3 separate regions of the Homo sapiens genome follow, and all the other regions are linked to region 1. Evidence: fine-mapped expression QTL. A gene starts in region 1. Each other region holds a variant in brackets. All regions are shown on one strand. Distances are from middle to middle.

The links. PIP is the estimated chance that this variant, and not a neighbour inherited with it, causes the effect.
Region 2: its variant is fine-mapped to the expression of MS4A4A in whole blood (INTERVAL, PIP 0.93).
Region 3: its variant is fine-mapped to the expression of MS4A4A in whole blood (TOPMed, PIP above 0.99).

Annotation. Positions count from the first base shown.
Region 1 is chr11:60,275,304-60,286,460 of GRCh38, reverse strand. It overlaps MS4A4A (membrane spanning 4-domains A4A), which reads right to left and starts at 5,795. Exons shown (of 7, transcript NM_148975.3): 1 at 5,745-5,795. The coding sequence starts at 5,785. RefSeq lists a silencer at 5,861-5,910.
Region 2 is chr11:59,874,152-59,885,308 of GRCh38, reverse strand. OOSP3 (oocyte secreted protein family member 3) reads right to left here and starts at 6,527. Exons shown (of 5, transcript NM_001395255.1): 1 at 6,428-6,527; 2 at 4,870-5,048. The coding sequence starts at 6,500. RefSeq lists a silencer at 8,269-8,469. The variant T/G (reference allele first, on the strand shown) is at 5,417.
Region 3 is chr11:60,246,736-60,257,892 of GRCh38, reverse strand. No RefSeq gene overlaps it. Among named protein-coding and RNA genes, the nearest start is that of MS4A4E, 9.2 kb to the right of the region's middle. The variant G/A (reference allele first, on the strand shown) is at 6,216.

The DNA.
Region 1 (11,157 bases):
ATAATATCTTATGCCTGTCTTTACTGCAATCTCTGAATATAAATTGTGAAGATTTCATGGACATTTATCACTTCCCCAATCAATACTTTTATAATTTCCTATGCCTGTCTTTACTTTAATTTCTTAATCCCGTCATCTTCGTAAGCTGAAGATGTACGTTGCCTCACGACCCTGTGATGCTTGCGTTAACTGCACAAATTGTAAAACATGTGTGTTTGAACAATATGAAATCTGGGCACCCTGAAAAAGAACAGGATAACAGCGATGTTCAGGAAACAAGGGAGATAACCATAAGGTCTGACTGCCTGCGGGGCCGGGCAGAACAAAGTCATATTTTTCTTATTGCAGAAAACAAGTAGGAGAAATATCACTGAATTCTTTTCCCAGTAAGGAATAACCCTGGGAAGAGAATGCATTCCCAGGGGGTGCCTATGGACAGCCGCTCTGGGGGTGTCTGCCTTATGCGATTGAAGATAAGGGATGAAATACACCCTGGTCTCCTGCAGCACCCTCAGGCTTGCTAGGATTAGGAAATTCCAGCCTGGTGAATTGTAGTCAGACTGGTTCTCTGCTCTTGAACCCTGTTTCCTGTTAAGATGTTTATCAATGACAATGTGTGCACAGCAGGACATGGAACCTCATTAGTAATTCTAATTTCACCCTGGCCTTGTGACCTTGCTCTGCCCTTCTGCCCTTGTGATCTTTTATTGCCATTTGAAGCATGTGATCTCTGTGACCCACTCCCTATTTGTACATTCCTCGTCTTTTGAAATCCCTAATAAAAACTTGCTGGTTTTGCAGCTCGGGGGCATCACGGTGCCTGCTGATATGTGATGTCACCCCCGGAGGCCTAGCTGTAAAATTTCTCTCTTTTGTACTCATTCTCTTTATTTCTCAGACTGGCTGACACTTAGGGAAAATAGAAAAGAACCTATGTTGAAATATTGGGGACTGGTTCCTCCAATAAACTACCAGACTTTTTTGAGACAGGGTCTCATTCTGTTGCCCAGGCTGGAGTACACTGGCACTATCGTGACTCACTGCAGCCTCGACCTCAGCCACCCAAGTAGCTGGGATTACAGGCCTGTGCCACCACACCCAGCTAATTTTTGTATTTTTTGTAGAGATGGGGTTTCTCTATGTTACCCAAGCTGGTCTCAAACTCCAGGGCTCAAGTGATCTTCCCGTCTCAGCATCCAGTAGTGCTGGGATTACAAGAGTGAGCCACCATGCCCAAACTTAAACTTACAGATTTTTAACACAGACAATGTAGTTAATTGCTGGGCCTTCCACCAAGAAAGGACACTTGCAGTCCCATAGCCCTCTTAGGGTTTCTGTTACGTTGAGTTCTTGCCACTCTTGATTAGAGGCTGCTTGTAGGGTTCTGAAATAATTTCCACATACTTTTCCTGTAACACCTTACTTTTTTGAAAGAGAAATTTTGAGGAAGGCCGAATATCTTCTATTTAGGTCTTCTAATGTTTGAAATAAAAATTACCTCTTCTCCCTTCTGGGGCAGTTGGTAAATTGTTAATTTATGGGCTTTATTAGAATGACTTTAAATTAAGCCCAGAGGGGGACAGTTCTCTGATGTTTAACAAAATTTGCGAGTACAAATTAAATTTAAGACAAAAAATAAGGCCTGCTATTTTATTTTACCCCTTTGATCCATATCTAAATTTTGTGTTCTGCTCAGAGGATGCTAAAGTGTCGATATAGGTCTGAATGTACCTACTCCATAGCATGTGAATGTAACCCACCTCATAAACTCCATTATCATTAGAACAGAGACTGCAAGAGGAAGAGGAGAGCCTCTAGGCCCGCCTCTGCATAGTCTTGTATCTAACTTACTGAGAGCAAAAAAGGAGGACAATCCTGACTCTTCTGACCAATCTTTGAGACAAACTGCAAAAGAGAGGAAGAGTCAACCTCTGACCACATGGTACCATGAAAAACATGCTCTCACCAATTATATAGACCCCTCTTATCTGCTTTTCTATTTTCCCCAAGACCGGAGAAGGTTGGAGCAGGGTCATGACAGGAGTAAAGTCCCTGTCTAGCATGTCCTTGAGTGGCAGGAAGTGTTAAAGGAAGTTTATGTTTTATACTTCAAGCCAGAAATGAGTAAGTGATAGTAGGAATACCAGTAATAATAGTCAATATGTATTTAGCATTTATTAAGTGACACGCACTGGTTTAAATGTTTTATATGTGTTATTTCATCATTAAATTCCCCTGAGAGATATATTCTATTATTCACAGGACAGAATTATAGAAACACAAGATTAAGTAACTTGAGTAAACAGTGGCAGGGCCAAAATTTAAATCCAGGTGATGTAATTCCAGAACTCCTTTGCTTAAGGGGATCCACTAAACTAGTCTGGTGAATGGAAGATCTCTTGTTTGCACAAAAACTTGTACAATTAATTTTCTTAGCAGCATTATCTATAATAGCTAAAAGGTAGAAACCACCCAATTTGGAATAAGTTAGATAACAAGACTACGTAGAGGTGGGCCAAGAGGCCCTTGTCTTCCTCTTGCAGTCTCTGTTCCAATGATAATGGAATTTGTGAGGTGGTTTGCATTTATATGCGATGGAGTAGGTATATTCAGACCTATATATACACTTTAGCACTTCCTAGACAGAACACAAAATTTAGATTTGGAGCATATGGCTAAAATAAAATAGGTCTTATTTTTGGTCTTACATTTAATCCACATCCTCAAATTTTGTTACACTTAAGGGAATTGTCCTTCTCTGGGCTTAATTTAAAGTCATTCTAATAAAGCCCATAAATTGACAATTTACCTACTTGTCCCAGAAGGGAGAAGAGGTTATTTTTATTTCAAACCTTAGAAGACCTAAATAGAAGACATCCAGTCTTCCTCAAAATTTCCCTTTCAAAAAAGTAAGGTGGCGCAAATCTTCCTATGTGGAGATTATTTCAGAGCCCTGTAAGTAGTTGCTAATCAAGAGTGGCAAGAGCTAAAGGGAACAGGAACCCTAAGAGGGCTATGAAATTACAAGTGTCCTTTCTTGGTGGAAGGTCCAGCAATTAACTACACTATCCATGTTAAAAATCTGGAAGTTTAAAGCTGGGCATTTTGACTCAATCCTGTAATCCCAGCAGTATAGGAGGCCAAGGTGGGAGGACCGCTGGAGCCCAGGAGTTTGAGATCAGACTGGGGAACATGGTGAAACCCCATCTCTACACAAAATGCAAAAATTAGCTGGGTGTGGTGGTGGGCGCCTGTAATCCCAGCTACTCAGGAGGCTGAGGCCCAGGCTGCAGTAAGCCACAATGGCATCAGGGTACTCCAGCCTGGGCAACACAGTGAGACCCTGTCTCAAAAATATCTGATAGTTTGTCATTGGTTCCTTCCATTGCCTACCCTCTATGCTCAATCAATCTCATTCTAATCCTACACAACCATTTTTCAACTCTGTGTATTTCTCCCATCTTCTCAAGGCAAGCCATTATTCTATTTTTATCAGAAGTATTCATTATAGCCTCTGAATGTTCCCTGTGTCCATTTGTGGCTTTGGATATTCAATCCACCACTGATGTTGTAGCCAGAATGATCAAATACAAAAACAATTGAGTCACCATCCCCTTTAAAAGCCTTCTTTTATATTTCACCACCCTTAGCATAAAGTTAAAATTTTTAATGTTGATAACAAAAGCTCGGCTACTTCAGCACAAATCTATTGTAGTCTTACCTCGAATCTCTCTCCTTTTAATTTTTAAAGCTCCAAGTATATTTGACTTATTTAAGTTGTTCCAAAGACGTAATTTCATTCCTATATTGAGACATCTGCATATATTGAAACCATTTGCAGGAATGTTCCACCCCTCTTGTGACCACCTTGTAAGAACAAAAACAAACCCACCACATCATCTAATCTTCTCACACATGAACAGCATTTTATAGTCTCTATCTTCTCTCAGACACTATTCCCCCACTTCCCCACCATTGCCCACATGTGGATTAGTCAGCCTATGACGGTAAATAAGGGTTTAAGAAATGTGTTATGTTCCTTCTACATTGCAAAAGTCAAAGTTATTTGGAAAGTGACTAAAGATGATTCTTCTTAGTCCATCTAAATGTGTACTTTATTCTTCTTTAATGTAAAAGAACCTCTGCCTCAATCTCTCAGGCACACCTTCAGACTGAGAATTTAGGACATGTTGGGTCTGTCTTATCAAACGCACTGGTGGTTCTCTCTCTGTGTTTAGTGCCTCTCTGGTAAGACTGTAAGCTTCCTCGAGGGCAGAGCAATTATATCAAAATAAAGCTTGTAACTGACTCCTATGCTTTCCCATAATTCTTTGGTAACATAGGTCAGGTTCTGGTCATTCAAGGCTGGTGCTTTGTCATTCTAAGAAACTCTGGCCATAAATTCATATAACTGCCTCCTCTTTTTCCACCACAGAAATCCTTGTGTTAATTATCTACGGCACATGAAGTCCCCAAGAACAAAAACGTGTTTACCATCCAGGGCTTGACTTCTCTATATTCAATTTTTTTTTTAACTGCTGAGAATATTGGATGCATATGAGGGACATTTCTTCCAGGTTGGAGAAGAATTTAAACCTTGGTTTTGCCACATCACCTATATGCATCAGGCTCTTAAGAAATACAATGTCTTTCCCCCACACCCCTGATAAAGAGGTGGGGAAACCCAGACCACCCTTCCCTCTTCTATTGGCCCCAGTCACCTTGTGGATCAGCAGCACCACCAGTCTCTTATTTCCTCATTTTTATGTCACCATCCTCCTCATGGGTCACAATTGCAAGGAGAGAGCATGAGGAGAGTGGTACAAACAGCCATCCGTTTTTCTTGGCAAAGTTGTCAAATAGACTAGAAACCCAAAATGAGGCCTGAATCTGGATGGTTTTAGAAGGATGATGGGGATGCAGAAGTGGTGGCATGGGAAGGGAAAAGGGGGAAAGGCCCGGGCTAGGAACCAAGAATTCTGTTTTTGTTTTTGTTTTTGTTTTTCTCCCAGCCCTTTTGTTAACTTGTGTGATTCTGGGTACATTATTTCCCTTTTATTGGCTTCTTTTACTTCATCTGGGGAAAGATTACAATGGCCACGACCACTTACAAGCTTCTTTCTTATCCTAAGAATGCTAAAAGTCTACAAGGTGTTTTTCATTAGCAGATTTTATCATGAGCAGCCTCAGTTTACTGCCTGGGTGCCCCATGAATAGTGCCAAAGACCACTGGAGAACTAGGTCAGGCCACAGCCCATCTAAATGTACAAGGCTGGGGACCCTGCCTGTGCCCTACTCCATGTACACCAAATTCTGCATGTGATACATCTGTTCTTAAATCCTGAGTTATAAAAATAACCAGTCAGACACAGAGAATAAAGACCACAGAAGAAGGGCATTAACAGTAGATGAGGTAACTAGTCAAAGGTTTAAAATGTTGCTTTCAGTGTTTTGATATCCTGAAGACTCAGGGGACAAAAGTAACTAAACAACCTTATCCAGCCTCCAATGTCAGCCTTTAGGAGGCTTTTCTAACTCCTATCGACTGTAGCAAAAACTGTTCCTCATCCCCCCACCGAATGCACATTTAAAGGTGCACTCAACCCACCCCAACCCTGAATACCAGCTTGGGTCATGGGAAGTGGCCTCATTATTCTTCTCATTCCCCTCCCAGAAATTCTTAACCCAGGAAGTGAAACAAGCCATCAGCCCGAAAGCCTAGGAAGGCAAGTCCCTGGACCTACCTTTCTTCAGGCCTGCAATGTCTGCTGTAGGTCTGATGCATGCAGGGCTCTGGGCAAGTTCCTCAAAGTTCTTTGGTCTAGACCCAATCAACTTCCCCCACTCCACACCTCACTCAGTTTAAATCTGCATTCCTCTTCTAGCAGATGTTTGGAACCTTAAAGGCTGTGCTGAGAATTTCTGAGACGCACAGCTAGTTCCTCTTTTATATCGGAAGCATTAACTGATTTTGTGTTCCCAATATGGGTGTGGATGTCTATTTTGAAATTTGCTGAAAAAGCAGGGGCTGCCTGATACAGTCTTTCCTATGAAAATAATACTGCTAATTACTGTGGATATCAGTGGTAGAGGATTTACTGTATGCCAGACTCTCTTCAAAAGTCGTTATATAAACAAGTAAATGGTATTTTGTAAATACCCCCTTTCACAGGGTCACACATTTCCACAGTACTCTTGTCTTCCTGGAGCACTACTATTACTATTTTATTAGGTTGGTGCAAAAGTAATTGCAGTTTTTGCCATTATTTTATGGCCAAAATCACAATTAACTTTTGCACCAACCTTAATATACACAACTTAAATGTTTTATTTACATGAAATTCCACCTTTAGAGATTCATCAGGAGTGGCCATAAAATGGCAACAAGTTGGTTGTATGGCAATAAAACAACACCTTTCTAAGTGAAGGAAGCAGCTGGTATCATAGAACGAGCTGGTCTTTGACTAAGATCAAACCAATGGCAAACATTTCTTGCATGGCCCTGTTAATCTCCTGAACCTAAGATTCATTTGTAAAATAAAATAATGCCTACTTTACATGGAGGAGGAAAGCAAAGTGGTGTGCAGTTTTCATTCATTCAGCATTTTCTTTAGAAAAACTACTATAAGCCAAGCAGTGTGCCGTGTGCTTCTGAAAAAATGGTAAAAAATAATTTTCACTCAAAGAGTTTATAGACTACTTGGAAAAACAGACCAGTAAATAAATCACTACAATCCATTACTATCAGTTATCTGCAAGGTAAAGTGGCAATACAGATGAGTAAATACATCATTACAACCCATTGTAATCAGTGATCTGCAAGGTAAAGTAGGATATCCTAAGAGAGCTCATAGGAGGATCAATGAACCCAACATTGGGTAGGCAGAGGAGACTTCCTAGATAAGGGGACATCTAATTGGAGACCTGATGAATGAGCAAAAGACACACAAATGGAAAGGGAATGAAGGAAGGTAATATTATTATTTCTATTTTTCAGAAGAAGAAACTGAAACTCAGAGATATTCGTATAGCTGGTATAGATGAGATTGAAATCCAGTTTTACTTAATTCCAAAAACTATGTGGTCTATAATCTGAAATTACGATTCTCAAAATTAAAATAGATTATATTTCAGAAATATTGTCCTGGTTTCAGACAACAGGAATAAATAATAATAAAATCAGAGAATTAGGCTCAAGGTAGAGGCAGTTCTCTAGGGAAGGGATGATGGTTACTGAACTACCTGTGATGCTAGTGAAGTTGGAGAGAATGAATGGATTTGAAAGATGCTTAGGAACAAGAAATGACAGTACTTGTTGGTATAATGGATGTGTAAATCAGGAGAAAAAACAGGAAAGGATGACACTCAGATTCTGGGTTAGGAAACTGAATGAGTGATAGAGCCATTCAGTAAGGCAATAGACATGGACCAGGACAGAACTGCAGGAACAAATAGTAAAATTTTGAACGTATTTGATCAGAGTTGTGTAGGGACCTTCAAATAAAGTTGACAAGAAGTGGATAACTGGCAGGAGCTAGGGAATGAGAACATGGCTATAGAGGTAAACCCAACAGCTCTTCGCCCAGAGGGATGAGGTCACCCAGGCTTGTGGGTGGAGGCAGAAAACGTCAAACCCTTTTTCTAGAGGATAGAGACAGTATAATCAGAAATAAGATTTCCCAGAGGATTATGAAAAAGAGGGTAAGGAAGATAGCAGGCAAACTCGGAAAATGTGGCATTGCAGAAGACAAGGGTACAGAGTTTCATGACTTCCTAAGAGAGGTTGAAATTCTGGACTAAGGACAGGCATCAGTCTCTCCTCCCACTCCATATGGTATGAAATGAGACAGTATCAGGTTATTATTAGCAGATAACAATTTCAAGAGAACAATAACATGAAATTTGACAGAGAAATATATATATTCTATATATATAGAATATATATCCTATTATATATAATAGAATATCTATATATTATATATAATTATATATCATATACAGATATATTATATATAATAGATATAATATATAATATATATTATATAATAGAATATATATTATATTATAATAGAATATATTATATATATAATAGAATGTATCTCTATATAATATGTTATATTATATATTAACAGAGACTGGGTTTCACCATTTTGGCCAGGCTGTTCTCGAACTCCAGATCTCAAGTAATATACCCTCCTCAGCCTCCCAAAGTGCTGGGATTACAGGCGTGAGCCACTGCACCCGGCCTTGAGCTGGATTTTGAATCCTATGCCCTATGTGAGCTGGAGCAAGTTGCTTAGGCTTTCTGCACCTCAGTTTACTCATCTGTAAAATATAGATAGTAATATGTCATAGCGTTGTTGAAAGGGTTATATTAGGTAATATAAATAAATTACTTATCATTTTTTGAGCACAGAAATATTTCAGTAGGAAGAAATCATTCAATTATTATTAAATACTTCAGAGAGACAAGCTAACAACAGTAAAATGTTCACTGGATTTAGCCTGAAAGAAATCATTAGTGCCCCCTTCCCCAGTTCCCAATCAATTTTCTTTCTCCAGAAGCAAGTATTTAAATTTTAATTGTTTCTTTTTGTGTTGACTCCATATTTCTAAGTGAATGATTTTAAATACTGTTCTAATTTTTGGTTTTATATATTATGCACTAACCTCCTACTACTGAAGACAATAGACTAACCCCTATATCCTTCATTTTTACCCTGGACACACCTTCCCACCATAACACTTCCTTTTCCCTCATTCTCCCATATAGTTTTATCACGATTTTTTAGTTAACTCAATTTATAGTATTTAAATCATTAATGGCTAATTCATTATGAGTGTTATGATTACGCTTCCTTTTGACCATTTTTCTCTCTGAAGTTAGTAACTGCCTCATGTTTCATATGCTGTTTTCTACATACCTGAAAATAAGTTGTTTTAAATACTCCACCATAAATGTAAATCTCAGTGTCTATAGACCCACAGGTAATTGATCTGTTTCATTAGTATTTTTCTGTATACACTCTCCCTTCCTGGCGCCTTATATTCTCCTATTCCAGTTAGGACTGGTTATACTCTAGGCCTTCAGGGATCTTAATTCACTATTCTCAGGGAATTCACTTACTTAAGTATTCACTATTGATATGGTTTGGCAGTGTCCCCACCAAATTTCATCTTGAATTGTAGCTACCATCATTCCCACATGTTGTGGGAGGGAACCACTGGGAGATAATTGAATCATGGGGGCGTGTTCCCCCATACTTTTCTCGTGGTAATGAATAAGTCTCACCAGATCTGATGATTTTATAAGTGGTTTTCCCTTTTGCTTGGCTCTCAATCTCTCTTGTCTGCCGCCATGTAAGATGTGCATTTTGCCTTCCACCATGATTCTGAGGCCTCCCCAACCATGTGGAACTGTGAGTCCATTAAACCTCTTTTTCTTTGTAAATTACCCAGTCTTGGTTATGTCTTTTTTAGCAATGTGAGAACATACTAATACAACTACCTTCTCAGACAATTAGCTGTGTCCCCAGACATATTCAACTGAAAGCACTTATAATTCTTGAGACTTACTGGGGTTCTACAAAGAGAATCAAATTTTTTCTAAGCTTCCAATTCCGTCAGTCAGGTTTTCACTTTCCGGAGGCTGCTAAGTCATTTATTGCTTGTCTAGCTGGTTTCTAACATTTAAAAAAATGATCCAATTTCTCTCATATTATTTTTGAATTTTTGGATTTATGACTTTCTCCCAGACCCTTTATAGTCATTTAGTTGGGTTTCATGAGGAAATAGATGTGTTTAATCCACCAAGATTAGCCATTATTTGAAAATTATATTTTTATAAGTGTTTTTCTTACCAGTTCATTGTATCTCTGAGGACAGATAATGTATCTTATTTATCTTTTTGATTTCAACATTTCTCAATGTCTGACACCAGGTAGGAACATTTCTGTTGAATGCTATTGGGTGGGTAAAATAGAAACAATGCAGAGAATGGATGTAGGTGGCACATCAGTCAGCAGTGAACTGAGATACAGTATCAGAGAAAATTATATTACAATCTCAGCTAAAGAGATTGGTAAAAGCCTTAGAGATATCTGGAATAAAAGATTAGAACAGAGGGAAAATGTGAAAACAAATATATTAGGAAGTAGGAGTCATGTAAAGTTGAGGTGATAGATCTAAGCACTGTAATTCCTCATTTTGAATCTAGAAAAAATATTATTTTGTATCCTTTTAATAAAAATATTTTTCCAGTGCCTATATAATTCTAAATTAAAAGCACAAAATGTTTTTTTTTCCCATATGGGTTTCCTTTGTGCTTAAGAAATGGTTCTTCAAATAGTACATATGTAGCAAAGAAAGGTATTATTCTTAAGAAAACACTCTTAAAATTCTTAACACTTAACCTCAGATACTGGTGCCTATGTATATTAATATGCAAAATAAATGCCAGTGTCCCCTAAGGACAGGGTCTGTTTAATGACAATAGCCCAACTCGTCTATGCTGACACCAAAGTAGTGTATACAAATCACATTCTTCTCTTCTTTATCATTACAAGATCTCTTAGCTCTGACCAATTTACTGCTCTGCAACCATTTTTGCCAACTAATGAAATTAAGTTTTAATCTGAAACTCTTAGAAAATGACTTACAGCCAATCAAGTCAGTCAAATTGAACAAATATATAAGTTATCAAAGGAAACAAAAGCTTTCTTTTTTTTATTTCATCACATGCCTTCTAAAGGCCCACAATTATAGAGATGTCTAATCTCACTTCCCTTGAACATTGAGTTTCACAGAGGATAATAATCACCAACTATCTCTGGCAAGTAATTTCCCAACATTTTCATTTCATCAAGTGTCCTAAAGTCATGTTTCTAATACACCGGATTTTATCTTGTGAATTTGAGGCAGTTAAAATAAATTCCACAAAAAGCTAAAAAAATGCCAGTAGTTATTCAAAACCAGCTTTAGTGTTTTGATATATTTTTTACAGTCTCTCCTTTGAATTATGAACACAGATTCCTTAGCTATTCCAGGCTACCTGTACTATATTCAGAAATCCAAGCAAATACTATTCTCCAGCAGTCACTCATTATAATTTGCTTTAATGAAACAGTGGATGAATTAAAACTATGTTATAAACATTTT
Region 2 (11,157 bases), 400 kb after region 1:
TCTAACCACGCGCCCCCCCAACAAAAAATAAAAACTTCAGCATACCATATCCAGCAACATCTAAAAAGGACTAAGCAGTATGACTAAATGGGATTTATCCCAGGAAAAGGATATGTTGGCTCCACATACAAAAATCAATGTAATACACCATATTAATAGAAGAAAGGGCAAAACCCATATGATCATCTCAATAGTTTCAGGGGAAAAAACTATAAAATTAAATACCATTTATGATAAAAACTCTCCACAACCAAAGATAAAAGGGCACGTCCTCAACCTGATTAAGAGCACCTGTGAAAATCCCACAGCCAACATCATATTTAACAATGAAAGACTGAAAGCTTTTCCCTTATAATCAGAAATAATACAAAGATGTTCACTCTCACAACTTGTATCCAATATTGTACTGGAGGTTCTAGCTAGGAAAATTAGGCAAGAAGATAAAACAAAAATTATCCAGATTGGAAAGGAAAATTAAAACTATCTCTATTTAAAGATGACATGAGGCCTGGCACAGTGGCTCACGCCTGTAACCCCATCACTTCAGGAGGCCAAGGTGGGCAGATCACTTGAGGTCAGGAGTTCGAGACCAGCCTGCCCAACATGATGAAATCTGGTATCTACTAAAAATAAAAAAATAAATAGCTGGACACGGTGGCACACACCTGTAGTCCCAGCTACTTGGGAGCCTTGAGGCAGCAGAATTGCTTGAACCTGGGAGGTGGAGGTTGCAGTGAGCTGAGTTCATGCCACTGCACTCCAGCCTGGGCAACAGATTAAGACTGCATAGAGAGAGAGAGAGAGAGAGAGAGAGAGAGAGAGAGAGAGAGAGACAGACAGACAGACAGACAGACAGACAAACAGACATGATCTTGTATATAGAAAATCATAAGAGATCCACCCAAAAAAAAAAACTATTACAACTAATAAGCATGCTCACTAATGTTGTAGGAGACAAGATCAATCGACAGAAATCAGTTCTATTTCTGTACACTAGCAATGAACAATTTGGAAATAAAATTAATAAAACAGTTTGAAGTTCAGTTGGATCCTGGCAGCAGCTGCAGCAGTTCTCTTCTGTGTCTCTCTTTGCCACCTCCTTTTCACTTCCGGAACATGTGTGCACATATATTTGTTTAAATAACTGTTATTAATTCTTTTGCACATATAACCAGGAATTAAATTGCTGTCTGTTATTTAAGCCACGGCAAGATTCTTCCCTTCTTCCCAATAGTAAACCAGGAATATTAGAAATGTTTTATATTTGAAAAAGACCTGTATATGAATCCAGAATCCTTAACCTTGGTTTTCCTAACCTTTCTAGAAAACCCATTATCTGTGAAATATTTTGTCATTAATCACATTAATGTTTTCATTTAGTGCATAACAATTAGTACTCAATTTAAAATTATCTTCCTTTAAAAGTAGCTAAGTTTGCAGTGTCCAGCAAGAGACTGACAGTCATGGCTGTATGACCTTTTGTAGGTTACTTAATCTTTTTGAACTTCATTATCCTCTTCTGTACAATGGGGATAATAGGAGGACCTACCTCACAGGATTATTGTGCAGTCCCCTGTCTTTCTTAAGACAGAAAAAGTTTCGCATTGAAGCTAACCCATCATTTAACCACTCTTCTAAGCACCATATATTTTGTTTCACAAATTTGTTATTCATTCAGAAAAATAATTTGAAAAGTGAGTAAATTCTACACAATTATAGTTCTCAAATGACTTGTACATTATGGTGCCTGTTCACATTTTACTACATGTAATCTTCTAAGGTTTTTAGATTTCTTTGGAGGTTGGAGGTGGCAATATCGCTAAGGCAGCTAACTTTTCAACATTCTTGGATCAAGCTGATATTGTGGTGAAAAGAATTCCTGCATTTCTCAAAGAACTAGGGCTGAAGCAAAAATCAGTTCCAATGAACAGGTGTCCAAATGGGCTGTTTAATAAAATCTAATCATTTTAAACAACTCTGGCGTTTCAGTGTTTTGTTTTGATCCTGTGAGTTTTAAAACTAGTATTTTAGGTGAGTGGTAAAGAAAGAAACCAAACAATAGAATAAAGAGTTGTTCCCAGGAAAGAATTGAAGTTGGGACAAATAAATTATTAACTTTGATTGCTAGACCTTTCATTGAAGACATTCAGCCAAAGACTCACCATCTTTAGAAAAATAAAAGACTATGCAACTCCAAAAAATTAAATATAGAGTTACCATTTGAGCTAGAAATTTCAGTCCTAGGTATTTACCCAACACAATTGAAAACAAATGTTTACACATAAACATGTACACAAAGGTACAGCAGTAACAAAAAATGAAAACAATTATTCAGCCATAAAAAAGAATGCAGTATTGAGACATGCTATGATATAGATAAACTTTGAAAACATGCAAGCAAAAGTCACAAAAGGCCACATATTGTATGATTGAATTTATATGACATATCCAGAGTATGCAAATCTATAGAAAGAGAAATTAGACTTGTGGTTGCCTATAACTAGGGGAGAAGAGGCAGTGAAGTGACCGCTGATAGGTATGGGTGCATTTTTGAGAAGTGATTAAAATATCCTGGAATTAGAGAGCAGTGATAGTTGTACAACTTTGTCAATGTACTAAAAACCACTGTATTGTACACTTAAATGTTTAATTATTCTTTCCTAATCCATGTCTGCTACTTAAACTGATTGCTACAGTCCTTCATTTTGTTTTTAATACTGTTGAAATTCTAGATCCTGCCCTTTAAATGGAAAATCTTTATAATAAATTATAAACCTAAGAAAGAAATGAAGCCACCAAGGTAGAGATTCTTTGACTCATAAAACTCAAAGAATCTGATTTGATAAGGTATTAAATCAAAATACTCATGTGAATATGTGAATATTAACATTGCTTTTGTATACTATGGAAATTTGAAAACATTTTAAACATTAACCAAATTGTTCCATATACAATCTGTCCTTGAAAGGTAATTTCGAAGGGGTCTTATAAGACCCTGAAAACTTTAGAAATGGTTTTCATGCCACAGGGGGGAAAAAAAAAAATCTTCAAAAGAAACCTACAGCTCTGATTGGTTATTCTACGTCATAGTTTGTGCCTCCTGTAATAACATTGTGGCTGATGTCTCTGCCTCTCTTAGTGTCTCATATTTAATTGTATAAACTTTGAAAAGTTGGCTTATTAATTCTTTGGCCTTTGTAATGATTTCCCTATATCCATAATAAGTCATACTTTGAAATATGGGAAAAACCACAAAGGCCAAAGAAATTAAAAATCTGCAAACTTTCATGAAGTAAGTTTTGTAGATGTGAAACAGCATATTGAAGGAAATCAGAATTGTTTGTATAGGACACACATACCTCTAAATGGAGAGTGTGGTTATTCACCACTTAATTTTCCTATAAATACACTACCTTTTATTTATTTATTTATTTTTTTGAGACGGAGTCTTGCTCTGTTGCCCAGACTGGAGTGCAGTAGCATGATCTCAGCTCACTGCAACCTCTGCCTCCCAGGTTCAAGCAATTCTCCCTGTCTCAGCCTCCTGAGTTACTGAGATTACAGGTGGCCACTAGGCTAATTTTTGTATGTTTAGTAGAGACAGGGTTTTGCCATGTTGGCCAGGCTGGTCTCAAACTCTTGACCTCAGGTGATCTGCCTGCCTCGGCCTCCCAAAATATACTATTTTTGTCATATTGTAAAACCACTGCAAACTGAATGCAGAGTCCACTTTTCTTCCTCCACCAAAGGTTAATGTTGAATAGTCTGTATGTTGCTGTCAGAAAACTCTCGCTCTCCTCCTCCCTAGTTCTATTGCCTTAATCACCTGGATTCAACTTCATCCCAGTGATAAAACCAGAGAAAAACAAAAGATACAGGAGATTTTATCATTAACTTCTATTGAGCATTCAAGGATCAAAAAATTCCAATCTTTTTTTTTTTTTTTGAGATAGTCTCGCTCTGTCACCCAGGCTGGGGTGCAGTGGCATGATCTTGGCTCACTGCAACCTCCACCTCTCGGGTTCAAGCAATTCTCCTGCCTCAGCCTCCTGAGCAGCTGGGACTGGACAGGCACATGCCACCATGCCTGGCTAATTTTTTATATATTTTTTAGTAGAGACAGCATTTCACCATGTTAGCCAGGATGGTCTCGATCTCCTGACCTCATGACGTGTCCGCCTTGGCCTCCCAAACTGCTGGGATTATAGGGTAAGCCACCATGCCTGGCCAAAACTTCCAATCTTAACTAAACTGTCTCAAAACTTGACAAGGAGCATATGAGAAAGAATGAATTATAGACCAATCTCATTCATGGACATAGATGTCAAAATTAGAAACAACATACGAGCAAATCCACCTCCACCTCAAACCTCCTCAGATGTTTTTTTCCTCTGACTTCCCCTAGTGAATTCTACCTCTGGTATCATCCATTTTTTCATCGCCTGCTTCTTCAAAGGAAGAATGTAAATCCCAATTTACCAACATGCAAGTTTCAGTTACATACCTGTTGAACAGATGCATGATCTATGGTAAATTGTTACTCATTTTAGCCTCAGTTACTATGAAAACTAGGAACAATGCCTGCTTTAAGTGCTTCTAGACTTTAGGGGATGTAAGGACTAAAAAAGACTTAAGAGTGCTTGGATAGTTATACTACTATATATGTTGAAGTATTCTCCTCCACAATGGGCTATGTGCCATGATATTTTATGGCCAAGTCAAGGTACCCACTGGTCTTCCTATCCTGAAAGTACCAAATTAAAGTAATTCAAGAGCCATAAAAAAATCTCGCACTGACAGTACACACAGTACTACTGCAAGGTACAACCTAGGGGTTAGTTTATTATTTGAACTGCTTGCAGCTCTTACCTCTTTCTGAATCCCACACTGAGTGGCAGGGTAATTAAACTCATATCCCTTCGCAGTTACATTGGTTACAGGACAGCCAGTTCCCAGAGATGCTTCATCAGAATGCAAAATATGATCTTGACCAAGTAAAGTTGGTTCAGCCACAACCCAGAACATAGAGGAAGTACATCCTACTGACACTGTTGAAAAAAAATTTTTTTAAACATTTAGATAGCAATTTTATGCTAAACGACACCCAGAGAAAGTCTGAACATAGCATATTTAAACATATGTATATACACCACTGTAAAACAGCCTTGAGAGATACAATATGATCACTCAGATGAAATGGTAAAATTGTAAATGAAGGATCAGTCCCATTCAAGCCTGTCTGGAAACAACCTCTGTCTCCTTCCCTGCGAGTACTGTTTCCTTAAAAGTTCAACATTAAGCTAAATATGGGATGCTGTCTCTGCTTCTTTTGCTGTATGGGGCTGCCCATGGATTGGGGGAGCCTCAAGCTGGTGTGCTGGCCTTGAGTTTACATAATTAGGCCAGTGTAAATGAC[T/G]GATAGGGCACTGAAGCTGCAGCTTCTATGGCCTCTGACTCTCATCCCTGGCAGACATCTACATCCCGTGTGGGTGAAGAGACAAGGGAAACTGTACCCTGGGGCATCTGCTAGACCTGCCAATAAGATGAAGATCTGCACCTGCTCTGTCTCCACCCTGTATCCTTCTATGATGCAAAAGGAAGATAGTCTCAGATTAAAACCTTGTGTGGTAAGTCTGTCAACTCAAAACATTCACAGCTGTGGTGTTACAACAGCATTTCTTCATTTTGTGTCTATTAATTCTACTACCAGAAGCATATCCAAAAAACATTTTTAGACAAAAACATATCCTATAGATAAAGCAATTCATCACTGTATTTTCATGGTTTAAAAAAAAAACTAGAAATAACAAAATTATATGTATTTTATATGTATTATTTCTACCCAATAACTTTGTACATAAATAAAAATATATAGTTTAGATGAGAAAAGATTACTGTAAAATATGGAAAAAGTAAGTGGAATGCAAATAAAACTATTAATATTAATGATAACAACTTTATGACTTAGGGAGAATAAGAAGTGAAAGGAGAAAAAATGAAGAACTTTATTTTCTCAACCTGATTTATGATCACTAACTCATGACCACTTAGGAGGCAACAGGGCAGGACAGGAGGCAGGTGGCAGGATTATGAGTGGGAGATCAGGGTGGGAGGTGGAAGAGCAAGTTGAAACCTTAAATAGAGAAATATTTTTCCACAGGTAGGGTGAATAGGGTGACAAAACACAATAGAAAACACCTAAATCCAGAGGAAGAATAAAACTAGCTCTTTCTCAAGTATTAGGATAAACTAGATAAATCACTTGCTTTGCGGGGTGGTAGAGAGCAAACAAGAGAAAGCAATACCACTACAGAAGTCAGAAAACTATACTGGAAAGTCACTTCCACTCAAAACAGCAAACAGTAAAAGGCCCACAACCGCTAAGAAACTATGACTTCAAACAACAAAATATAAAGGTCACTTGTACCTGACTCTTGCTCAGAAAGAGTCAAAATCGTGCACAAAAGGAAAGAGGACTGTAACCTCACAAAATCTTTCATGACGTCAGCTGCCAACTAATGACCCCTGAAAAATTCAGGAAATTGGAAGCGGCTGCCCTGCTTTTGATACTTTTATACCCGCTGCCACACCCAGCTGACTACATTTACAAATCACTTTTTGCCAATGGCTTATATTTTCCAGGAATGTATTGTTTTTGCCAATTTAAGTTGCTTAATGTTTGGAAAATACAGAAAGTATAAAGAACAAAATTAAAACTCTTTATAAAAACCACTATTTTTATATTCACAGAAATAATTTTTTCTCCCTGCTGAAACTTGACATTCTCTTGATCACTCCAGAACCAAAATCAGGCTGCAAATAAAGTCCCATTGACAAATCTTTGAGAACTGTGACTTCTTCAGGCCCTCCAAAGTTCCTAGAACAGAATGTTCACAGAAGGTCAATGCATGTTTATTGAATTGTTGGGAAATGATTTTCAAACTTTAGCAGCATCAAAAACACCTGCAGCACTTGTTAATACACCGATAGCTGAACTGTGTTCAGGAAATTCTTATTCAGGGCTGGGAATGGAAGGGCCAAGAATTTACATTGCTGAAAGTTTCCAGGTGCTGCTGATGCTGCTGACCCCAGGATCATACTTTGAGATTGTGCCTCAGGCATGTTCACTTTAGAAAGTATTTATTTCAATGGCTCCCAAATTTTAGATTAATTTTCAAAATTATCTGGAACACCATTTAAAAATATGTGTATTCTAACCCCAATCTAGTCCATTGAGATCTATTGTAGCTGGAAATGTAAGAATGCATATGAGTCACTGCAGGGTCTTGTCAAACATGCAAATTCTCACAGTCTAACTCAGTGGGGCAAGACCCAGGAATCTGCATTTTTAAACAACTGCCCCCAGGTGACTCCTGGAGGCTCACACTTTGAGAAACTCTAAGCAGAAGTCCTCAGGGCTGCTGATGAAGGAGGAGGGAGGCAGATCTCCAATTCTTTTTCAGTTATTTTCATTTTATTTATATCTGTTTTATATTAGATCCTTTTTAAAACATCAACATTATAAATTCTCAGCATCCTTTGACCTGAAATGTAACATCATAATTTTAAATAATAAACCAAATGTGCCTGGGGCTACTCATTAAATGACATCTTTGATGGATCAATAAGGAATAAAACAATGAATCCAAATCCTATTTCTCATCATATAATCTCCTGAGACTTCCAACATCTATAATATAAACTTTGCAAAATATGTATGTTATCTGTGCCACTAGTCATTATCTTTTGAGAATCTGGAATGACCTAAAAGAAAACAGAGACCAGTCCAACTAGCATGACATTGGGCCAAGTTCCAGAATCAGTAGTCTAAACAAAGCCTTCCCATAAGAGATATAAAAAATAAAATAAAAATTCCTTCACCCAATGAAACATGTCACATCTACCTCCCATATTAACTTCTTCTACACACCCACATATTATAACAGAAAAAGAGATGGAATAATTCAGTTTGCTACCATACCACTTTGAATCACCCTCAGATCTGGGAAGGAAGAGCCTCTGCTCAGGGACCCATGCATTAGAGGGTATCGCTCTGAACTTCTCCATCATGTTCTTCTCTGGGCACAAGAAATGTGTTGAAACAAAGGAACATGCCATCCAATTCCCAAGCCTTCATAATTTCCTGCCCAAATGGCCTTGAACTTAACATCCAAGGGCTGCTTGAGCCCCTTCCCTGAGTCAGTTCTCTCAGGTGTATATAGCCCTGGGCCTAATGGTGGCCAAGAGGCAGTTGTCTGCTGGAAATATGGACGGAGCTTGGACACAACACCTGGAGTGTCCACACACGTGCACTTGAGGCCCCCTACAATGCAGATCAGAGTGGGGTTAGCAAGAGGAAGGATTTGGCCATGGGCCATGGGCAGGGGATGGTAGTACAGTGGAGATAGATGGTGGCTCTCACCACATTGCAGTGTTCCAATGTGAAATTCTAGAGATTCTAGACTCTGAGAATTGTAGACTAAAGTCTATCTTTCTATTGCATTATGAAAGTCAGTTTGTCAAAATAGGAGACATAACATATCTTAACAGTTTCTTCATTTAAAGCTTTTATGTAAATATACATGATATGTGCCTCCACTTGTACCCTTGCTCCAGTCCCCATGCATGTGAGGTGGGAGCAGACTTGGGGCCGTTTGTCCTCCACACAAAGTATTAGTTTTGTGCAAAAGTAATCTCGGTTTTTGCCATTACTTTTAATTTGCAATGACTTTTAATGGCAAAAATCGCGATCAGTTTTGCACTACCCTAATAACTTGTCTTGGGAGAGATCTACTGATTTCCTTGGGAACCCTCTTAGGGACTTGTTTTGCTTTGCCAATAAGCCTGAAAGGACCTGAGTTTCACTAAACATCTTTGTGCTTAGGTCACTCATCAATGTTCGCCTTCAGTAAGTCAAGCAAATAATCAGAATTACGTAACTCTTACTTAGCATGGAGAGAAGTGAAACGAAAGATATTGATTATTTCAAAGTGGATCTGCTTGATGAGATAAAGGAATTCTGGGTAAATGTCAACAACATACTTAATGCTTGGGTCACTTTGACTTTAACCCCAGATGTTTACATCCCCACGGCACTCCTGATTTCCATGGAAGGCCCCTCTATCATTTACTTTTTTCCTAGTTTGCTCCTGTAAAACCTTCTAATATTTATCCAATGAGATTATCTACCGGTATGTGTTATTAATTTGTCATTTGGCTTAAGGATCTGAGGTTCCTTTCAGCAAACATTTTGATAACCTCTTACATCATAGGCATTTTTTATGGTAGCGTGGAGGACACAATAGTGAACGAGAAAGGTGTATCGCTGCCTTTGAGGAGTTCACAGTCAGGCAGGGAAACAAACATTAAATACACACAGTTAAGAAATAATTCTGCAAAAATTAATTGCTATTTTCATAAGTGCTGCAAACGAAAGTACAGAATGTCAAGAAAGTGGCTAACAAATGGCCAGAAAGTACTTGTTCTTAGAGATCACATTTCAAGTCTGGAGTTTTATTTGAAATGCAGTGGAAGGCTTCAAGGATTTAACCAGGAATGAGGATTTTAAAATATTTTTTAAAAACATCAGCACAATAACAACATATCTCTGTTGCAAAAGAAAATTCAAAACTTCCATTGTCTTGGATTAAAAGTCTTAAGACAGTGTATTTCAAACTGTGTTCCTCAAGAATTCCTTCTCTAAATGTGGTCCATATATGACTCAAGTTGGAGAAGTGCTGCTGTAGGAGCTGGGGGGAGAATGGCTTGGAGAGGGCTACAAGTGAATAGTAACACACAAATGTGGAAGCTATTTCGGAGAGGGCAAGAAACTGGAAATGCTGATCAGATTATTGGCAGGGAAGGCAGGGTGAGACAGACTGGTCCCAGAAGGTAGAATGTGTCACTCTGGTTGGTTGGTTAAGTGATCAAAGGAGACAGAAGTATCAGGCATAACAACCAGACTTTGGGCAGGTATAACTGAGTTGATGGTTATTAGTGAGACAATAATAGCCATCAATTACGTACTGCTTATTACGCACCAGGTACTACTCTAAGCACCCTCCATATATTAACTCATTGACTCCTCATGAAAACCTAGGAGATAAGAACTATTTTCTACATTTTGGAGACCTAGAGAAATTAAAGATTTATTGAAGGTCACAGAGCTATTAAAATGGCAAAGATGGCTATACTGATAAAGAAGTAAGTTTGCAATGGAAAACTAAGAATTCAATTTTGGATATGCTGGTTTTTAAATTGCAATAAGACATCCAAGTAGAATTACAGAGAAGGCATTTGGCTATAAGTTGAGACTCAAGAGAATCTAACATAAAAGTGAAAACTGGGAAAATATTAGTCTATTTGAAGGTTTGAATGTGGGTGAGAACACCTAGAGAGAGTGTGTAGCATGAGAAATAATATAGGTACAAAGCTCTGAGGTCATACAACATTTAAAGTTTCAAAAAAGATTGGCAATGAGTACAAAGAAGGAGTCAAAAAAAAACTGGGAGAAAAATTACGGGGCTGAGAGTTGATGATATTGCAACAGAAAACGTGGGGAAAATGTATCTAGAATTTGAAGGAAGAATCAACTATATTCAGTGATTTTTAAGAATTCAGGTAGAAAATACAACCCACAGAATGGGATAATATTTGCAAATTAGGTATCTAGAATATACATAAAGAACTCTTACAGCTCACTAATAAAAAGATATATGGAAACCCAATTAAAACAATTAGTTCTGAATAGTTTTCTCTTTAAAAAAGATGCCAGGTGTGGTGGCTCATGCCTGTAATCCCAGTACTTTGGGAGGATGAGGAATGCAGATCACTTGAGGCCAGGAGTTCAAGACCAGCCTGGCCAACATGGCGAAACCCTGTCTCTACTAAAAACAAAATACAAAAATTAGCTGGATGCAGTACCACACGCCTGTAATCTCAGCTGCTTGGGAGGCTGAGTTATGAGAGTTGCTTGAACTCAGGAGGTGGAGGTTATAGCTAGCTGAGATTGTGCCACTGCACTCCAGCCCGGGCAACAGAGCAAGACTGTCTCAAAAAAAAAAAAAACACGTGTGTGTGTGTGTGTGTGTGTGTGTGTGTGTGTGTGTATTTGTATATATATTAGATATATACAAATATCCAATAATTTCATGAAAA
Region 3 (11,157 bases), 29 kb after region 1:
ACATTAGATCAGAATCTAAGGAAATCTTGATAAGAAAGTGTGGACTTCAGTTAGCAATAATGTTCAATATTGGTTCATTAATGGTGCATCATACATTAGTAAGATGTTCATAATTGGAGAAACTGGGTGTGGGGCACAGGAGAACTCTCTGCTCCCTTCACAAGTCTTCTGTAAGTCTAAAACTTTTCTGATAGAAAAGTTTATTTAAGATATTTTAATTTTTCTTTTGTTTTTTCACTCTGTTCTGCTAAACCATGTTGTCCAACATAGTTCACTAAAATAAGACAAAACTTTCCAATTCTACATTATAAACAATATAATTATGCTACACAGTTTGGTGTAAATTCTCTTTCATTACCAGGTTCCCAGGAAGAAATAAAACAAAAAATTAGGCTGGACACGGTGACTCAGCCCTGTAATCCCAGCACTTTGGGAGGCCAAAGCAGGTAGCTCACCTGAGGTCAGAAGTTTGAGACCAGCCAGGCCAACATGGTGAAACCCAAGCTCTACTAAAAATATAAAAATTAACTGGGTGTGGTGATGTGCACCTGTACTCTCAGCTACTTTGGAGGCTGAGGCAGGAGAACTGCTTGAACCTGGGAGGTGGAAGTCACAGTGGGCCAAGATCAAGTCACTGCACTCCAACCTGGGCAACAGACAAGACTCTGTCTCAAAAATAAATAAAATAAAATAAAATAAAATAAAATAAAATAATTAAAAAAATAAAATAAACTCCTTTACCCTGGGAGTTAAAAAAACACTCCCAAAATCATCCTGCTTCATTTTTTGGTTTTGCTACTTTTCATTCAGTGATATCCCTCAAATTCTGCATGGGGTTAAGGATGGTTTTCTTTTTTAGCAGTATTCCAACTTTTCTTAGTACCAGCTTCACATTTGCAAAATGTAGATGATGACAGTAATATCAAGCTTCTTAAACAGTTAGCCCAGGGAAAATTATGTACCAGACCCAATACTTAATCTATACCCATGATATTATTTCCAAACACCAAAGCAATAACTCAGGAGTATCTGAAGGAAGGAGGGTAGACGGAGAAAAAGAAACCTTGATTTTCAATCTCAAGGATGACAATCAACTCCAGATTTTCAGAGTCAATGATTTGTGTTAAAATCAATTAACCCTGAATTCAGGCACCTTTTCATGCTGCCATCAGTGGAGGACGGAGAAATCAGTGTGTGCATATTATATTCTCTTTCAGAGCATGGCCTTTGAGATATTATTGTCAATGAAAAGAGTCAAACTCTAAAATATTTGAAGAGATTTATTCCGAACCAAATATGAGTGACCATGGCCTGTGACACAGCCATCAGGAGATCCTCGGAACATGTGCCCAAGGTGGTCAGGGTGCAGCTTGGTTTTATACATTCTAGGGAGTCACGGGACATCAATCAAATACATTTAAGAAAGATATTGCTTTTTTCCAGAAAGGTGAGACAACTCGAAGCAAGAGGCAGGTTGTGGGGGCTTCCAGGCCATAGGTAAATGTAAACATTTTCTGGTTGATAATTGGTTGAGTTTATTCAAAGATCTGGAATCAATAGAAAGGAATATCTGGTTTGTGATAAGTGGTTGTGGAGACCAAAGTTTTATGATAAAGATGAAGCCTCTAGGTAGCAGGCTTCAGAGGCAATAGGCTGTAAAATGTTTTTTTTTATCAGACCTAAAGTCTGTGTTGATGTTAATGCCAGAGAGGTATAAGGAAGCATGCTCGACCCCCACTTCCCATCAAGGCCTGAACCAGTCTTTTGGGTTAAATTTTAAAAGAGCCCTGGCTGAGGAGGAAGTCCATTCAGATGGTTGGGGCCTTAGAATTTTATTTTTGGTTTACATTATGGTACCTTTGCAAAGTTTACAAATTTGGTGATGGCCCCAGGTTCCAAAGTCACTCTTGAGGCACTTCTGTCCCATTGGCCTTATTCAAAACCTCCTGATATTCATTTCCTCTCTGGTCTCTGTGTTCCTGGCATCCTCATGTTGCATCAAGTGAGATCTGTCTCTAGTGACAAAAGTCCCTTGCCACAGTAGCTATGGCCACTGTTTCTTTCAATGGAATCATTTAGGCTTCTAAAGCAAACCTTACAGGCACAATTTTCCCCTTGTCCTCATTGTAATTTCAGCCAAAGAACAGCTCTGAGAGAAAGGGTGAACCAAAGCTGCTATGTAGGCCTAGGGAGCCGGTGGCCCTTGGAGGCTCAGGACAGCCAGTCCCTCCACCAATGTGCTCCACTCCAGAGTCTAGCATCTCTTCAGCCTTTGATCGTTCAGGCCTTGTGTGTGGTGCTTCATCCTAAAATACTGTGGTACCTCAAAGAAATGGAAATGTTTCTTTTATCCACAGCATTTTGTTTCTGCATGATTTATGTATGACCCTCGAATTCTGCATCCTTCTGAAGTGTTCCCACATTTTGGAATGCTTGACTGAGCTCCTAACAATTCATCTGCTCCTTAATTGGATCCAGTTCCATATCTGTTGATGTAACATTGTAAGGTTGATGACGTTAATTGATTATAGTATATTCTATTTTCTTTTCTCTTTCTTTTGTCTTTTTTTTTTCTTACTGGTCTGGACATTTTTGTCTTCCTAACATACCCCTTTCATTGAGTCTTCAAGACTCTTAGTGTTCCAAAAGCATCCATTGTTCAAACAAGGCTTGTCCACCTCATCTCCCAGTGTCCCATGATGCCCCTAAGTGACATACTACTGTGTTACCAATGTAGAACCAACACTGGACTTCATTGTTGACTTGAAACCACCCAATCAAGGCTACCACAGATGTGACACAGGATTTTTCTTGACCACTTTGCAAGCTGGAGACCTCTGGCTGGTGATGGCCCCTACCCAGGCCTTGCTCAGTTCTGGGCTCACTGTAGGAGATGCCCCATCTACTCAGCCTGCCAGACCATGCCTGGTTTGCACTCCAGCATGGATCCCATGTACACTACAACAGTGCCCTCATCCCCTAGTGGGAGGAGGTGTGTGAGTGAGTGAGTGAGGGATTGGGCCAGCCGTTCCAAGCACTGACACAGGAGCAGGCTTCATGCAGGGCTTGACCAGGCATGTCACAAGTGACTCCCACAGTGGACTCCAGCATCCAGATGAGGAGAACACGGTGGCACCCAGGCAGAAGTGTCCACAATGCTGAAACCCCAGAGGGGGTGTTGCAGCACACTAATAGCAATTTTAGTCGCACCATCTGCAGCTTGATGGATGGTAGTGTGTAAACAGCTCTGTCAGTCCCATAGCCTCACTCCAGCCTGCAGCTCCAGGGCTGGCTTGTTCCTGCCACTGCTTCTCATTGCATGGGGTGGCTCCCGCCACTGTCATAGGGCAGAGGGCCACAGTGTTACGGCCTTCTTTGTACCCACATTCGGTGGGTTCTGAGTTCTTGTCCCACGTCCCAGAAGAATGAGGTTATGCTGATAATTGAAAGGTGAGGAGAGTGGAGGAGGATTTTATTGAGAGACTGAACAGCTCTTGGCAGAGAGGGGATGCAAGGGTGGTCCCCCAACCAAAGTTGGGTGTTCTCTCTCACCCGGAGGTGGTCAGTTCCCAAGTATGGCTGAGTCTGGGGCTTTTATGGGCTCAGAATGGCAGAGTGAGTGCTGATTGGCTTGTGAGTATGCAAAAAAGGCTAAAACAAAGGCAACACTCAAAGGTGGGCATGACAACGTAAAAGACCAATTAGGGAAGGGTAGGTACATGTAAAACAGGTGAAAGGTAAGAATCATTCAGAGGAAAGCATGCCAAACAGGAAGATAGGTTCTCAATCTGGTCTGTGGATTTGTCAAGACTTGTAGCTTGGCTTTCAGGCTTTAAACTGTCTTTGATTTGAAGATGAGGTTCACCAGACACCTGCCCCTGTTTGCCTAGGATTTGTCTACCTCCTACTGCTATCAGATGCATCAATCTCCCCAAGTGCTTTTTTTAATATATTTTTCAAAGTTCCTAGTCTCTGAACATAGGTTTTTTGGGGAACTAGGGCCTATACACAATACCCCTTTCTTCTAGTCCTCTCTTTAGAGTGACTTGCAAAATAAGAAAAGAATTCCTTCAACTCAAGGCCAAATGAAATTCAATTAATGTGCCAAACCAGTCACTGGCAGAGCTGGGTCATGCCAGGCCTCCTCTGTAAGAAGAGGCACCTCCAAACCCTAGCAAGGGAAGGGAAGAGCAGGTGATGATGCTGTCTAGTAGGAAGACTGTCTCCCAAACAAATGAAGAAACACAGAGGGGCTGAGCCACACAAACCCAAGCCCTCCTTCCAAACACAGAGGGGCTGAACCACACAAGCCCAAGCCCTCCTTCCAAACTCTGCAACTTTGTGCAGCATTCCTCTTTCCCTGAAGAGAATCAGGTTAAGGAGAGGAAATAAACAGGTGTGTTTCTCTATAGGAAGTTCTGCTGGAAGGAAATGTGAGGCTAGAGACAGAGGAAGTTCCCTCCTAACTGTGAATACCTCTGGGGAAGGAGGCAGGGGGAGGAGGAGACAGGGAGAGCTTTGGGGCTACCTGCAGCATTTTATTTCTGTAAGGAGGAAAACGATGTATCTAAATACAGAAAATGATCATGTCACCTGAATCTCGGGGAAGATATGTAGATATCTGTTTTATCATTTTCTACTCTTTTATCTATGTTTATAAAGTTTCACGATTAGCATATAAACATTACAAGTTATTCTGAAACATTTATCATCTCACCTTTTTATAAAGCTGATCCTTTCTGAAGGAATACCAAAAAAAGAAAAAGAGGAAAATATAAGTGTCCTAGGAACCTCAAAGTTGTTTTATTTTTACTTAATGTACCATTTTTATACAGCTCAGCAATTTATAAAAGTCCCTGAGTGCCAAATATATATATAAATATTTTCCCCTTGTTTGACCTTCTGTCTTCCTCTTTTCTTTGTGTTTCACTGTAGCCCCTCAAACAATGAGTACTCTTTTCAGGACAAAATGTCATGCACAAGTCATAAAGTACAGAGGAACTACACCCTCCAGAACAGTGGTATGGGCAACTTTCTGCCTAATAGATACTTTATATTAACCAAGCAGTAGATTTCCTCTCAAACAAATGAAAAGCAACTGAAGAGAAACCTCATAAAAACACAGCACATTTTTGTTTCCCAACAGTTATAAACAACCCAGTTTTCCTTTCCCTTCTCACCCCATGTTCAGACACTATGAGTATTTCCCAAACTTTGGAAACAAAGACCTAAGTTTCAGTTTCCTGCAATGACATGTTGGTGACATTCTACTGCAGTCTTCAGGGCAACTGCTGATGGCAGAGTTGCAGCTGGCTTGGAAAATTTATTTTTATTTATAAGGGCAGAAGCAAAGGAAGCCCCCAGGTTCACTCACTGAAAATAACTATTGCCCATCTGCATTTGTTTTTGCTGCAGCCCCAAGAGCCACAGTAGAGAGGCTGCTGGCATGGGCAAGCCTGGTCTTGGAGCTTAGGGCCACTGACCTCGGCACTAACATGAGTCCCTTTCACAACAGATTGCCACTGCCCTTACGGATCTGAAACTCAGGGTCAGCATAGGCTCAGAGAGGTCACTGGCATCTAATCCAGCAGACCAGACAGATGTATGAGCACTTTCCCTCCAGAAACCTATTTACTTCTTCAAACACACAAACATTATATTGAGCAACTTTTATAACTTTTTGGTATCTCCTTCTCTGTTTGCAGAATGGAGATAGTTAAACATAATAATACTCCATGATCACAGGATGAGAAAATATATACATCCAGCACTTAGAACAAAGCCCGACACAGTGTAATGTAATTTCATCAGGACTTCTGAGCTTCCTTTTCTTCCTCTTACATCTCTTCCTGTCTCACTTTCTTAAATGATACAGCTTCTCTACACTTCCATATACTGGCACCCTCTTTATTTCCTCCCTCCAGCACTTGCACACAGAGACACCTAAAATCCTCAAGACCACTCCAGTGATTTTCGGGTACCACTCTTGCTAGACAACAGAAAAAAGTAATATGGAAGGAAATTTTGCATCTCAACTCTTTATAGCTTAGATAATGCTAAATGGTCCATATGCTTTCTGATAGTTGAGGGCACATGCATTTATACAATAACATGCACACACAAAGTACCGTCCCATGTGAGTGTTTAGGGGGAACGCTAGGCAAATCTGAGGCTCCAACCACTTTTTGTGTACTTTTCACAATTTCCCAGCAGAT[G/A]GCAGCAAAGTGTCCTGAGGACGGTTGGGTTTTTCTATGTAATTGAGCTCTGGAGGCAGTGTAAAGCTGGAGGCTAAATTGTCCCTCTAGATACACAACAGGACATAGGCAGGAGTAGCTTTCTGTTCAGTTTCCTCTGAGGCCCGAAGAGAACAGATGACACAGAGTCATGCCAAGGGCAGCCTCTGAAGCAGGTAATTATTCAGATAGAATTGAAATCAACTTTTTTTTTTTATGAGAGGAGTATTCTGTTATCAATATTGTGTAGAATTTCTTACAAGTAGGTGATAAAAAGCAGATGGCAGTTTGTTATTGTTGTAAAAAAAAGCCCAGGACCAGACGGATTCACAGCCAAATTCTACTAGAGGTACAAAGAGGAGCTGATACCATTCTTTCTGAAACTATTCCAAGCAAAAGAAAAAGAAGGACTCCTCTCTAACTCATTTTATGAGGCCAGCATCATCCTGATACCAAAATCTGGCAGAGACACACACACACACAAAGAAAATTTCAGGCCAATATTCCTGATGAACATCGATGCAAATATCCTCAATAAAATACTGGCAAACTGAATCCAGTAGTGAATCAAAAAGCTTATCTACCACGATCAAGGCGGCTTCATCCCTGGGATGTAAGGCTAGTTCGACATACGCAATTCAATAAATGTAATTCATCACGTAAACAGAACCAATGACAAAAACCACAGGAATATCTCAATAGATGCAGAAAAGGCCTTCAACAAAATTCAACAGCCCTTCATGCTAAAAACTCTCAATAAACTAGGTATTAATGAAATGTATCTCAAAATAATAAGAGCTATTTATGACAAACCCACAGCCAATATCATACTGAATGAGCAAAAGCTGGAAACATTCCCTTTGAAAACCAGCACAAGACAAGGAAGCCCTCTCTCACCACAGTTAGGCAAGAGAAAGAAATAAAGGGTATTCAAATGGGAAGAGAGGAAGTCAAATTATCTCTGTTTGTAGATGACATGATTGTATATTTAGAAAACCCCATTGTCTCAGCCCAAAATCTCCTTAAGCTGATAAGCAAATTCAGCAAAGTCTCAGGATACAAAATCGATGCGCAAAAATCACAAGAATTCCTACAGACCAATAACAGACAGAGAGCCAAATCACGATTGAACTCCCATTCATGATTGCTACAAAGAGAATAAAATACCTAGGAATATAACTTACAAGGGATGTAAAGGACCTCTTCAAGGAGAACTACAAACCACTGCTGAAGGAAATAAAAGAAGACACAAACAAATGGAAAAACATTTCATGCTCATGGATAGGAAGAATTAATGTCGTGAAAATGGCCATACTGCCCAAAGTAATTTATAGATTCAATACTATCCCCATCAAGTTACCAATGACTTTCTTCAAAGAATTAGAAAAAACTACCAAATTTCATATGGAACCCAAAAAGAGCCCATATAGCCAAGACAATCCTAAGCAAAAGGAACAAAGCTGGAGACATCACACTACCTGACTTCAAACTATACTACAAGGCTACAGTATGGTACCAAAACAGATATTAGACAATGGAACAGAACAGAGACCTCAGAAATAACACCACACGTCTACAACTATCTGATCTTTGACAAAACTGATAAAAACAACAATGTGGAAAGGATTCCCTATTTAATAAATGGTGTTGGGAAAACTGGCTAGCCGTATGCAGAAAACTGAAACTGGACCCCTTCCTTACACCTTATACAAAAATTAACTCAAGATAGATTAAAGACTTAAACGTAAGACCTAAAACCATAAAAACCCTAGAAGAAAACCTCGGTAATACCACTTAGGACATAGGCATGGTCAAAGACTTCATGACTAAAACACCAAAAGCAATGGCAACAAAAGCCAAAATTAACAAATTGGATCTAATTAAACTAAAGAGCTTCTGCACAGCAAAAGAAACTATCATCAGAGTGAACAGGCAACCTACAAATGGGAGAAAATTTTTGCAATCTATGCATATGACAAAGGGCTAATATCCGGAATCTACAAAGAACTTAAACAAATTTGCAAGAAAAAACAAACAACCCCAACAAAAAGTGGTCAAAGGATATGAACAGACACTTCTCAAAAGAAGACACATATATGGCCAACAAACATATGAAAAAAAGCTCCTCATCACTCATCATTAGAGAAATGCAAATCAAAACCACAATGAGATGCCATCTCATGCTAGTTAGAATGGTGATTATTAAAAAGTCAGGAAACAACAGATGCTGGAAAGGATGTGGAGAAATAGGAATGCCTTTACACTGTTGCTGGGAGTGTAAATTAGTTCAACCATTGTGGAAGACACTGTGGCAATTCCTCAAGGATCTAGAACCAGAAATAGCATTTGACCCAGCAATCCCGTTACTGGGTATATACCCAAAGGATTATAAATCATTCTACTATAAAAACACATGCACATGTATGTTTATTGCAGCACTGTTCACAATAGTGAAGACTTGGAACTAACCCAAATGCCTATCAATGATAGACTGGATAAAGAAAATGTGGCACATATACACCATGGAATACTATGCAGCCATAAAAAAGGACAAGTTCATGTCCTTTGCAGGGACATGGATGAAGCTGGAAACCATCATTCTCAGCAAACTAACACAGGAACAGAAAACCAAACACTGCATGTTCTCACTCAGAAGTGGGAGTTGAACAATGAGAACACATGGACACAGGGAGGGGAATATCACACAACAGGGGCCTGCTGGGGGGTCGGGGGCTAGGGGAGGGAAAATATCAGGAAAAATACCTAATGTAGATGACAGGCTGATAGGTGCAGCAAACCATCATGGCACGTGTATACCTATGTAACAAACCTGCACTTTCTGCACATGTATCCCAGAACTTAAAGTATAAAAAAATTAAGAAATTTTTAAATAAGAAACCTGAAATGTAGATATTCTATAGGAAAAGTGACATGGTTTCTTTAATAGATAAATGACATGAATAAAAAAGAGTGGGAAGGGGAAAATATAGATTGAAGGAGACTTAATTAACATATCAACAAAATGCAATGTCTGGCCTTTGGATGGATGGGGCTGGGGTGTTCTTGACTTAAGAAAATGAACAAATATGTATGAGAAAATAATAAAATTTGAATATGAACTCTATATTCGATGATACTAAGGAATTATTGATAATGCTGTAAAATGTGATAATGATATTAGAAAATGTTATGGAATAAGTGTCATCTGTTAATGATCCATACCAAGGTATAAACTAGTGAGGTGATATTAAATGTGAGATTTACTTTAAAATACTCTTACAAATATGTGCAGGGTGGAGAGAGATGAGAAAACATTGGCAAACTATCGATAATTGTTGAAGCAGACTGGTGGATGTATGGTAATTCATTATACTAACCTCCCTACTTTTGTGTGTGTTTTAAATTTTCCAGAAGAAAAAGTAAAAGACAGAAAGTGGTGATGGTTTCATGAGTGTATATTTATCTACCAAATGATCAAGTTGTATACATTAAATATATACAGCTTTTTGTATGCCAATTATACCTCAATAAAGTGGATTTTTAAGACAGATAAGAAATAAAAATAAGATAGATAAAAACTACACGTGATTGTGAAATTAATGAAATGAGTGTTTTTAGCTCCATCAGTTCAGTTTGGTTCTTTCTTAAAATAGCAATTTCATGTTTTATCTACTGTACTATTTTATTGTATTCCTTAGATTCATTGGATTAGGTGTAGACTTTCTGCTGTTGATGATCTTTGTTCCTATCCATGTTCTGAATTCTACGTCTGACATTTCAGCCTTTCAGCCTGGTTAAAAACCATTGCCGGAGAACTAGCGGAGTAATTTGGAGATAAGAAGAGACTCTAGCTTTTTGAGTTGCCAGTTCTTGCACAGCTCTCAGTCATCTGTTTGTGCTGATGTTCCTTCAATCTTTGAAGCTGCTATCTTTTAGATGGGCTTTTTTTTTTCTTTTATTGCCTTTGATGCCCTTGGGGGTTTGATTGTGGTATAAGTTGGGTTTAGTTGATTGGCTTTGATTCTAGTCAGTAGACTGGCTTTGATCCTAGTCAGTTCCTGGGTATTGGATGAGGCTTCCCTGATTACTGTCTCTCTGCTCACATTTATTATGTTGGGCATTCTGGTCCACAGAACTCCCTTAGGCAGGGGCCACAGTTGGCGGACAAGTAGTATCCTTACAGCTTAGCGCTAATCTGCTGTCTGAATGCTTTCCAGGGTAACACAGTGTTGTCCCTACCTATGGAGTTTAGGTAGAAGCAGGACCACTGGGCTATAAGCTGGGGTGTCTGGTTACAAAAGGCAAAGATTGGTGGAGTTGCCCACCCTATCATCTGGGTGTTTCTGGGGCAAGAGAATGCTGCACTTCTTGGTAATTTCAGGCAGAAAGAAGTAGCACTGCTGAGCTGGAAGCTCCAGCAGATGTGGCTCACCTGTCTACCAGTGGTAGGAGTGGGTAGGGCTGTCCTCTCTGGCATCTGGATGCTTCCCAGGGAAACAGGAGGCTGCACCTGCTGGCTCAGTTCACAGAGAAGTAGGACCACTAGGCCAGAACTCTAGCAGGCATTGCCCACCAGGCTACCAGTGGCAGGGTTGGGTTGCATCACCTGCCCTGCTGTCAGGGTGTTTTCTGATTACAGGAGGCTGTGCCCTCTGGCACACCTAAAGACTGCAATTTCTGGCTGAGTTCACATATAAGAAGGACTACTGGTCTGGAAGCTCTAGCAAGCATTGCCTGCCCGGCTACCAGTGTCGGGGGGTGGGTGCATTGCTTGTCCTTCTTGTCTGGGTGCTTTCTGGGACAAGAGTAGGCTATGGCTACTGGCCAAGTCCAGGCAGAAGTGGAAATGCTGGGTAGGAAGGTGGCACAAGGAATATTATGTGGAGATTATTTCAGAACCCTACAACAGTCCCTAATCAAGAGA